Regions from separate parts of the Homo sapiens genome. Here region 2 is linked to region 1. The links come from fine-mapping of genetic effects on gene expression. A gene starts in region 1. The other region holds a variant in brackets. All regions are shown on one strand. Distances are between the middles of the regions.

The links. PIP is the estimated chance that this variant, and not a neighbour inherited with it, causes the effect.
Region 2: its variant is fine-mapped to the expression of GPR161 in prefrontal cortex (BrainSeq, PIP 0.95).

Annotation. Positions count from the first base shown.
Region 1 is chr1:168,134,208-168,139,582 of GRCh38, reverse strand. It overlaps GPR161 (G protein-coupled receptor 161), which reads left to right and starts at 2,653. Exons shown (of 6, transcript NM_001375883.1): 1 at 2,653-2,844. RefSeq lists silencers at 1,958-2,252, 2,781-3,010.
Region 2 is chr1:167,880,195-167,885,569 of GRCh38, reverse strand. ADCY10 (adenylate cyclase 10) reads left to right here. Exons shown (of 33, transcript NM_018417.6): 9 at 1,942-2,133; 10 at 4,961-5,079. It also overlaps a transcript of DCAF6 not described here. Among named protein-coding and RNA genes, the nearest start is that of ADCY10, 31 kb to the left of the region's middle. The variant G/TTTTG (reference allele first, on the strand shown) is at 3,086.

The sequences.
Region 1 (5,375 bases):
TTTCTGATCAGTCCAGAGGCACATCAGTTTCAGGGAAGTTTCCATCTGAGGTCAAATGGTTTTACCATTCTATCAGTGGAGGCATACTGTAAACAAATAAATAGAAAAATTGATGCATATTTTATAAATTTGGACACATTTTATGTAGAAAAACAACAGAGCTGTGAAAGAGTACATAGATTAGAGAATTTCTTTTAGATTGGTCAGGGGCTGAGTGCAGTGGCTCACATCTGTAATTCCAGCACTTTGGGAGGCCAAGGTGAGAGGATAGCTTGAGCCCAGGAGTTAAAGACAAGCCTGGGCAACATAGCAAGATCCCATCAGGGAAGACTTCTCTAAGGAAGTGACATTTAAGGTGAGATGTGAAGGGCAGGAAGGGCTTGGCCTGTAAAGAGTGGAGGAAATAACATTCCATGTGGAACAAATAGCATATTTCACAGTTTTGCTTTCACCAGTTTTATGTGGACTGCTAGACTGAAATGATATTTTACATAAAATATGTTTTATATATAAATTATTCAACACACATGTGAGGTTCAGTTGGACAAGGCCTCTCATTATCTTACTTTATAAGTCTTTGTGGATGTCTCTAAAACAGAATGGTTTATTAAACTAATTTGGGAAAGGAGAATTAGTGTGTATCTTTCTCTTTTTCTAAAAAAATATAAATACATTCTTGCACAAAATCAGTCACGTTTTTCACAATTGTCACCTATACAATGATATACGGTGAAATAATTACTTTAATAATAATTTGTCTGTTTTCTCTGCATCTGATTGAATTCTGCTCATAGCTCAATATTAGCTCCAGAAGGGAAAAAAATCTTAAGAGAGCAATTGAAAATGCATTTGTTGGCAGCAATTTCCATCCCTGAATGCACAGTAAGTTCTGAGCTTATGAGCTCAGAAAAAAGAAAAATCTTTGTGATAAATAATGCATTTGATAATGAGCAGCAGGAGAAAAAAAGTGTTTTCTGTTGAAGAGTTCAAAATGAAATAGAGTAAGTATGGGAAAAGGTTGCTCAGTATGAAGGACATCTTTCGCATCATGGATGGGTATGGAGCCACAACAGCCGTAACTGTTTATTTTTTATTCTCATTCTCACCATGCCAGTCTGTGGCATATATTTTCAGACCTTTCGTGAATACCAATTTTCAAAAGGGTTTAGTTCTCAGATTCTATGTCACTGGATGATTTACTTACATGACCTCATTTAACCTTTTCAACTCTACAGATAGGAAAGTATGAGTATCCCCATTTTATATATGAATAAGCTGAGAGGAAGGTTAACTCACTCCCTCAGGCTCATAGAGCTTAGCCGACATCTGAGTCAGTGTAAATTAAATAAATATCAGGGATTTCAAAATAAGTGTCTAAAATACTATTAAGAACAGAAAGCTTTAAGCTCCTTCAAGTGTCTGGCTTGCCGCGTGACCTAGACTCTTAAGTGGAGCGTCAGCTTCCAGTTTTTGACCAAATAAAGCATTTATCCCATAGGAATATTAAGGCACCCATTTACTTTTTTCTCCCCATTATCCCATTTGTCCCCAGAGCAATGTGGGTGTTTGGCAGGTGCCAGACAGTAAATTACTGTTCTAAATTGTGCCTCAGTGGCCCAATAATATTAAGGAAGCATCTCCCACAGTGTCAATCTGTAGACAAGGGAATAATTAATGTATTTATCAAAGCAGATGGATTTCAGAGGAATGTGAATCCTGCTCTAAGCACAGCATCAGGGTTTGTTTTTTTTTTTCTGGAGTTTAGTGAACTGGGCTTTGTAACTTCTTACCTGATTATTTTGCTGCCCTGTTTGTCCTTCCTTCTTTCCCTTTTTAGCAGTTCTACTCTGTGCTTCAACTTTTCATCCCCTTATTAAGACTGCTGCATAGAAAACGTAGGAGTCTGGAGACAGGCAGGCAAAGTGGGGAGTGAGGAAGGGAAAACAAACATTCTGAGAAGGAACTGTTCCGTCCCCCGAGCTGACAGCGCCCGCTCTTTGTTTTGTGATGACTGCTCCCTGGCCTTTTGGTTCCGAGGGAGTGCAGGGCAGCAGTGTGAAGACCTGTTTACGTCCACTCCCCACTCCCCGGGGCTGGCTTCGGGACGAATTCACTGTGGTATTAACAGAGCCCGGGACAGAGCCTGGCAGAAGGCAGATGGATGCTCGTGCCCGTCGGCTGGATGAATGAAAGGTGAGCAGCAAAGGCGATACCAGGATCGTCCACGGCGGGACTGGAGGAGGAGAATGGGACTGTGCGGAGCCTGCGGGAAGAATCTGAAAGTGTCTGTGTGATGGAGAGAGACATGGAAAAGGCGACGTCCCAGCGGCTGGAACTGGGGCGGAGGAACGGGAACAGGGAAGGCCTGAGTTAGGCACCACAAAGGTTTTCAGGAGAAAAGTGGGGCGAGCCGAGAGGGTAAGGGCGAGACAAAGAGCAGCAGCCGAGGCTGTTCGTGGGAAGAAATGGGAAAGAAGCAGCCGGGAGGGCGGGCGGACGGACGCGAAGGAAGGGGCGCGGGTGGGGAGGGGCGCCGGGAGCTGGGCGGGGCGGGGCAGTGCGGGGCGCGGGGAGGCGGCTCGGGGCTCCGGGGGCCGGAGGGGCCCGGCCGGGCGTGGGGGGGGCGGGGCGGGGCGCGGGCGCCGCAAAGTTACTTGGCCTGCGCCCGCCCGGGTCCGCGTGCTGGTGGCTGGCCCGCGGGAGGAGCGAAGCGGGGCTCGGTGGGCTGAAACCCGAAACCTCCAGTCCCGGAGCGCGGCGGGGAGGAAGGAAGCGGCGGCGGCGGTGGCCGAGGCGGGGAGGCGGCTGGGCCGGGGCCTGAGCTGCCGCGGCGGCCGCTCCTCGGTGAGCACCCGGCGTGGGGCGCGGGCGCGGGCCCGGGCGGAGAGGGCGGTCCGGATGGAGCCAGGCTAAACTCATTGTGCGAGGCTGAGGGCTCAGGGCGCGGGCCGGGAAGGGTCCCCGCCCCCACGGCGCTCCCTTTCTCCCCGCGCCCCTCTCGGAGGTCAGGGCTGTCCTCCGCCCGCACTGCGCCTTGCTTTGGAGAGCTGGAGCTCTTTGTGGGAAGATGTTGGGGGCGCGCCCCTCCCCTGCGGCCTGGGGCTTCTGAGAGGCCCACCCCATTCTGCTGGGTGCAGCCCGCCCCGTTTCTCCGGCGCCGCCCGAAGCCCCTAAACAGTCCGCTGGATGGGAGGGCGTAGGTGCGTGCCCGGGACTCTGCCGATGCGGGCCGCGCCCCCTGGGGCCAAGAGACTCCACGTCCCGCTCAGGGCAAAGGGTGTGGGGAGAAGCGGTCACGCCCCTCGGCTGGAATCCGTGAGGACCAGGTGAGCAGCCTTCTCCCAGCCGGGACTCAGGGCGCTGTCTCCCCGAGCCTGGGCGGGCGGCGGGTGGCGCGCCCAGAAGTGGCCCGGCGCCGCCGGATGGGCGGCTCTGCCCCTCAGATCTGCGGGAGGGAGATTCGGCTGGTTCTTGGAAAGGGGAGAACTCGACCAGCCCTCGGCGCCTTCTGGGCCAAGCTTAACCCCCGTGCAACCTTTGGACAAAGGCATATGGGATGAGAACGTCTGTTGGGTAAGTGGGGTGTGTCCTGTGCTTCCCGGAGGTCTGCTCACCAGTAACCACATAGCTGCGCATTGGCATCGCTTTATATCACATCTTGGAGGCTATTTTTGCTTGTTATTGTACTTTCATCCCTTTTGCAAAGTGCTTTCATAGAGCAGGTCATTTGATCCACCTCCCGGTGAAGCCGTGAGGAGGTGTGTGGTTTTGGAGGGAAAGAACCTCAGTTCCTTGATTGTCCAATGGAGACACCGATAACCTCCGGTGAGCCTGTCTCAGCGTCCTAGGGGCTGGGGGAGGATGGCCATCCTTGTGGCTCCTCCGTGGAGCCAGGCGTGGATTCAGCCTGGCTTCTTCTCCCCTAGTGACCTGGACCTCCAGATGAGTTCTGGAGAGCTACTGCTTCGGGGAATAGGCGGTTTTCCCTTATAATCTATTTTACTGCAGCCACTGGGAGCAAGTGAAGAGAGGCATTTTTCAGGCCCTCAGGGCAGAAAGAGGAGGTGGGAGGGACCTCAGGTCATAGAGACAGAGGCTCTTCAACTGTAACTGGAATGCATGGCACCCATTTCTGTTACTTCTTTCAGAGCACCTCTCTTCCGGTCCTCCTCCACACCCGTCTTATTTTATACTTGTCAGGTGCTTACAAGCACTTTCATGTACACTTTTTCATTCACACAACAACCTTGTGAAGCTCTACTAGCCCATTTGATAGGTGAGGAAACTGAGGCTCAGGAGAGATGAAGCATTCTTGCCCAGCTAGGTAAGCAGCCCAGATTGAACTCAGATCTTTTGCCTTGGTAGTGCTTTTCACGTGGTTTCCTGATGGCACACAGGTGAGTTCTTTAACTCAGGGCTTCTCCCTGCCCTGTAGCTCCACTGCCATAACATCAAGAATAGAGACCCCTCATTAAGAGGCCCGCTTGACATTTTGGAACTAATCCAAGGCCGCAACGATATCCGAACCGTTCTCTTTGTGTTGCAGCCTGGTGCACTGTGCGTCCTCTGAGAGGTGAAGGAGCACTGTGTGGTCAGAGGGCTGCGAGCTCTCTGTTTGGGTTCCGAGGAAGACAGAATGGGCTGAACTGGAACTGACCTAAATGTCAGCAAGAGGAGGTACAGTTCTGTGGTGTAAACTCCACTGCCAGCAGGGACCAGTCAGGAAGCCTGAGTGCAGGAGGCGGGTGGACAGGAGGGCTGGGTGGGAGCTGTGTGCTGCTAAGCCTGTCTCCAGTAAGGGGGCAGCTGCAGGTGCGGTGGGGCTCCAGCACATGGTTGCCTGATCTTAGTTTTGGGGGAAACTGTAAATTTTTACGGAAAACAAGCTTCATATATTTTTAAAGATAGCAACTGATTCAAAACATTTTTTTTAATGTGCGTGCAGTTTAACCAAATTATGTGTGCAGGCTGCTTGCGTCTTCTGTGTGAGACCTTGGGAAGCACTGACTGTCATTCTGAGATGCAGTAAAGCATGACAGCAGGGGAGAAATGGTGTCTTCTTGCTGTTTTTCTATAAGAACAAAAAACATCAACAGAACTAGAGATAGCTATCAGTGCTACCTGGAGTTTGGAGGAGGGATTGACTTTATGACTCCATACTTCATTCATTCACCCAGTACTCGTCTATGACTCTGTTTCTACACCAAGAGAAAAGGCTTACAACTAGTTTTAATCTATTTCCTTGCACATTTTATGTGCTCAGCAGGGGAGAGGATAGCATTCATGGCAAATATGTTCAGGGAGTGCTGGAGCATAAAGGAAGGAATTTGCAGTTGGCCAGGGGTAAAGCATGAGGAGGTATATTTCAATTTTAT
Region 2 (5,375 bases), 250 kb after region 1:
AAAATATGTGAAAAGGTGCACAACATCACCAATCATCAGATAAATGAAAATCAAAACTACAATAAGATTATCATCTTACCCCAGTTAAAATGACTTTTATCCAAAAGACAGGCAATAACAAACGCTGGACAGGATGTGGAAAAAAGGGAATCCTTGTACACTGTTAATGAGAAAGTAAATTAGCACAGCCACCTTGGAGAACAGTTTGAAAGTTCCTCAAAAAGCTAAAAATAGAGCTACCATACAATCTAGAAATTCTACTCCTAGATACATACTCAAAAGAAAAGAAATCAATATATTGAAGAGATACCTACACTCCCATGTTTACTGCAGTGCTATTCACAGTAGTCAAGACTTGGAAGCAGCTTAAGTGTCCATCAACAGAGAAATGGATAAAGAAAATGTGGTACATATACACAACGAAGTACTATTCAGCCATAAAAAAAATGAGATCTGTCATTTGCAACAACGTGGATGGAAGTGGAGGTCATTATATTAAGTGAAATAAACCAGGTATAGAAAGAGAAACCACATGTTCTCACTTATTTGTGGGAGCTAAAAATTAAAACTATTGGGCTGGGCATGGTGGCTCATGCCTGTAATCCCAGCACTTTGGGAGGCCAAGGCAGGCAGATCATGAGGTCAGGAGTTCGAGACCAGTCTGACTAACACAGTGAAACCCCGTCTCTACTAAAAATACAAAAATTAGCCAGGCATGGTGGTGCATGCCTGCAATCCCAGCTACTCTGGAAGCTGAGGCAGGAGAATCGCTTGAACCCAGGAGGCAGAGGTTGCAGTGAGCCGAGATCGCGCCACTGCACTCCAGCCTGAGCAACAGAGCGAGACTCCGTCTCAAAAAAAAAAAAAAAAAAAAATTAAAATGATTGAACTCATGGGGGTAGAGAATATAAGGATGGTTACCAAAGGCTGGGAAGGGTAGTGGGGGATGAGGAGGAATTGGGGGTGGTCAATGAGTACAAAAAAAGAGAAAGAATGAGAAAGACCTAGTATTTGCTAGTACAACAGGGTAACTATAGTAAAAAATAATTTAATCATTGATATGGTTTGGATTTGTATCCCCTCCCAAATCTCATGTTGAATTATAATCCCCAATGTTGGTGGAGGGGACTGGTAGGAGGTGATTGGATCATAGGGGTGGATTATACCCTTGCTGTTCTCGTGATAGTGAATGAGTTCTCATGGGATCTGATTGTTTAAAAGTGTGTAGCACTCCCCCTGCTCTCCTCTGGCCATATAAGAAGTGCCTGCTTCTCCTTCGTCTTCTGCCATATTATAAGTTTGAGTCCTCCCCAGCCATGCTTCCTGTACAGCCCATGGAACTGTGAGTCAATTAAACCTCTTTTCCTTGTAAATTACCCAGTATCAGGTAGTTCTTTATAACAGTGGGAGAACGGACTAATACAACCATACATTTTAAAAATAACTAAAAGAGTATAATTGGATTGTTTGTAACACAAAGGATAAATGCTTGAGGGGATGAATAATCCATTTACCCTGATGTGATTATTACGCATTGCATGCCTGTATCAAAATATCTCATGTAACACAAAAATATATACATCTACTATAGACCTACAAAAATTAAAAAATTTTAAATTTTTTTAAAAATAGGAGAGCCAAAAAGAACAGTAGTTATTTCCCTTATTGCAATGGCTCATATTGGCATGAGGAAGCCAGCAGTTGGGGTAATGGAGTGGTTGCTGGCCAAAAATTAGCACATGCATAAGTCCCCACTGGAAGAGAGGGATTTTGATTATATTTCCATCTGCTCCACTTCAGGCATGCTGGCTCTGTCATGTTGTACCTCACCCATTCTGAGGTAGACATTCCCTAGATGATTTCGGGTATGAGGTGGGGGCGGTGTTGGGGGAGGGATCCACTGCCAAGGACACCTACAGAAAGCTGCTCTCTACTTTGCAGATTGATAACAAACAGCTTCAGGGCTATTTATCTGAGCTTCGCCCAGTGACGATTGTGTTTGTGAACCTGATGTTTGAAGACCAAGACAAAGCAGAAGAGATAGGCCCAGCCATCCAGGATGCCTATATGCACATCACTTCTGTCCTGAAGATCTTCCAAGGCCAAATCAATAAAGTCTTCATGTTTGACAAGGTAAGTGTGAACTATGGGATGGGAACCTACCAATAGTTTTAGGTTAGCATTCATGGACAAGCACATTGGTGAGAATAGACACAGGAAATTTAACCTAGAGGCTGGGCGTGGTGGCTCACGCCTGTAATCCCAGCTCTTTGGGAGGCAGAGGTGGGCGGATCACTTGAGGTCAGGAGTTCAAGACCAGACTGGCCAACATAGTGAAACCCTGTCTCTACTAAAAATGCAAAAATTAGCTGGGTGCGGTGGCACGTGCCTGTAATCTCAGCTACTCAGGAGGCTGAGGCAGGACAATGGCTTGAACCTGAGAGGCGGAGGTTGCAGTGAGCCGAGATCGCACCACTGCGCTCCAGCCTGGGCTATAGCGTGAGACTCCGTCTCAACTAAACAAAAAAAGAAATTTAACCTAGAAGGCCAGTCTTTGTTTATAATTATAACTTCTATGGTGGATATGGCACTTACTATGTGCCAGGCACTGTTCTCAGGACCTGATCTCTATTGACTCATTTCATCCTCATGACCACTCTGAGCAGTAGGTTGCTCTTGTCATTATCCTCATTATATAGATGAGGATGCTGAAACACAGATTAGGATACCAGGACAAGGCGAGATTACGTTTTGCTTATGATCATCAAGCTAGTAAGGGGGAGGCTGGGATTCAAACCCAGGCAGTCTGCCATCCCCGTCTGAGCTCACTATGCTGGGCTACCTCTCACTACGCTGGGCTACCTCTCACTACACATAAGTCTCCAGCTCAGTGCATGATGTATTACCCAGGGGTTTCAGGTCAGGAGTCTTTAGTAACCATCTTACCCCAGAAGCTTGTTTCCAAGAAAGCCCACTTGCCATGTCAACACCTCCAGTTCCCCTTTTATTTTCATCCATGGCAGGGAGGGGACTGCCTCTGGCTCCCAGGTGTTTTCGCTCTGTTCTTTTTTTTTTTTTTTTTTTT[G/TTTTG]AGACGGAATCTTGCTCTATTGCCCAGGCTGGAATGCAGTGGCATGATCTCGGCTCACTGAAACCTCCGCCTCCCGGGTTCAAGCGATTCTCTTGACTCAGCCTCCTGAGTAGCTGGGATTACAGGCATGCGCCACCACACCTGGCTAATTTTTGTATTTTTAGTAGAGATGAGGTTTCGCCATGTTGGCCAGGTGGGTCTCGAATTCCTGACCTCAAGTGATCCACCTGCCTCGGCCTCCCAAAGTGCTGGGATTACAGGCATGAGCCACTGCACCTGGTCTTCACTCTGTTCTTAATCAATTCAGAGAAAAGTGATGTGATGAACAAATGACCACAGATGCATATGTGAGAATTGATTTCCCATCTCAATTCCTTTTGTGTATTAAAAGCAGAGCACTTAATTACTGCCCCACATCCACTCACTCACTAATTCAACAAGCATTTACTGAGCATTTCATAGAAGACGAAAAGCTAGGGCTGGGCAGCAGAGATGAGTAACACATATATTGACACAACCAGGCAGGAAGCATGCATTCTATATGAGACGAACTAACTCTGTGCTATGGGAGTTCTGGAAAGGGATTACTTCCAGCCTGGTGTCTCCAGTACCTTCTTCAATACTGACCCATGGGTATCATAAGAAAAGAGTGTAGAATCTAAGAGAACAGTCTTTCGTGTCTTGCAGACATGGCTCCAAAGATTCCCAGCTGTGAGACTTAGCAAGTCATTGAACTTCTCTGAGCCTTGGTTTATTCCTCTTTGAATGGGGATAGTATTTGTCTCAAATGATTGTGGAAAGTTTTAAATAATGTAATATGTGTGAGGCACTTGGTGTAATGCCTATCTTAGAGTCAGTGTGCAATAAATGAGAGCTGTCATTCCATTGCTAGGGGGAATCAAAAGCTCTTGCCAGGCCGCTACATAAATTTGCAGGCAAAAGCTCCCTGCTTCCCCCAAAGGGGTTGCCCTCTTTGCACGTACCTAGAAGCAGTGTTTCCCCCTTCATGTCAAGGCAGATCCCAGTCCTTTTTAAGATCTAACAGTTGATCAAATTCTTTTGGAGAGGGTTGAAGAAATTGAGGTATTTTAGTGTTCTTTGCATTTTATCAGGATGTAACATGTCAAAAACTCAAAATTTCAACCCATCACCCTTTATTCACAATGCCCTTTTCTTACAGACAACAGCACCTGACTGAGGTCATTTTTTAAGTGACTAATACTACAAATGCCAAGTTTTAGAGTTGAATCATTGCATGGAACAGTTAGCTTTATGATAAGAAAACCTACTTACAGCCTAAGCCTTTATCCCTAAGAATAACAGTATCTGCAAAGTACTTTATAGTTTAGGATGACTTTTTGAATATATATAACACATTAATTCTTTTAGTAGCCAAAAACATCTCAGCAGGTCTACAGTATATCCATTTTCAGAGAGATAAACGGAAGTTCCTAGATTGTAATAGACTTATCTAAGTTTCCACACTTGAGAAGTGGCTTGAGGACAGAGACTTTCTGATTCCAGAGCTGGTGCCTTTTCCACTGCTCTGTGCTGCTGCTTCATAGACTTAAACTGAGCACTTTGCAGCATGGACCTTGGCCACAGGAGAGAGTAGGCCGAAGCATGCACACAGATAGCTCAGCCCTATTCACTATATCTGGAGCAAAACAAGCCCTTCTCAAGGCTCAAGCCCTCCTGTTGATGATGCAGTAGAAGTGTTTGAAGTGTACTAAAAATAAAATACTGTGAGAGAAATCATGATAAAATCTGATTCAGAAGCCAAAAATTGCCGCCGGCTCTCTGTTGAGCCTTCTGGCCAGTCCAGTTTAAAGCACACTGTCCATCAGCTGTGGTTGCTGTCTCTCTCCCTCACAGGGCTGCTCTTTCCTCTGTGTCTTTGGCTTCCCTGGGGAAAAGGTACCTGACGAGCTCACTCATGCTCTGGAATGTGCTATGGATATATTTGACTTCTGCTCTCAAGTCCACAAAATCCAGTGAGTATTGACCCTGGTCCCACCCAGCGGTCCCTGACCCTTTTGAGGCATAAGTAGGGAGGGCATGCAGGGAACAGGAAAGAAAGAAGAATTAATTAAGAACTTAGTCCTGTGTCTCAAACTGTTGTTCCTCCTTCGCATCTCCGGGCCATGTAGAAATGCCATAAACTAATTCCAACGGGTAGAGAAAATCCTTTCCCACCCTTTCCCAACCCAGACATTATTTCCCACCCTTCCCACTTTCTCTACGCTCATTATCTTTATTTCTTTCCCCACAAATCTTGTCTCCCCTGCAC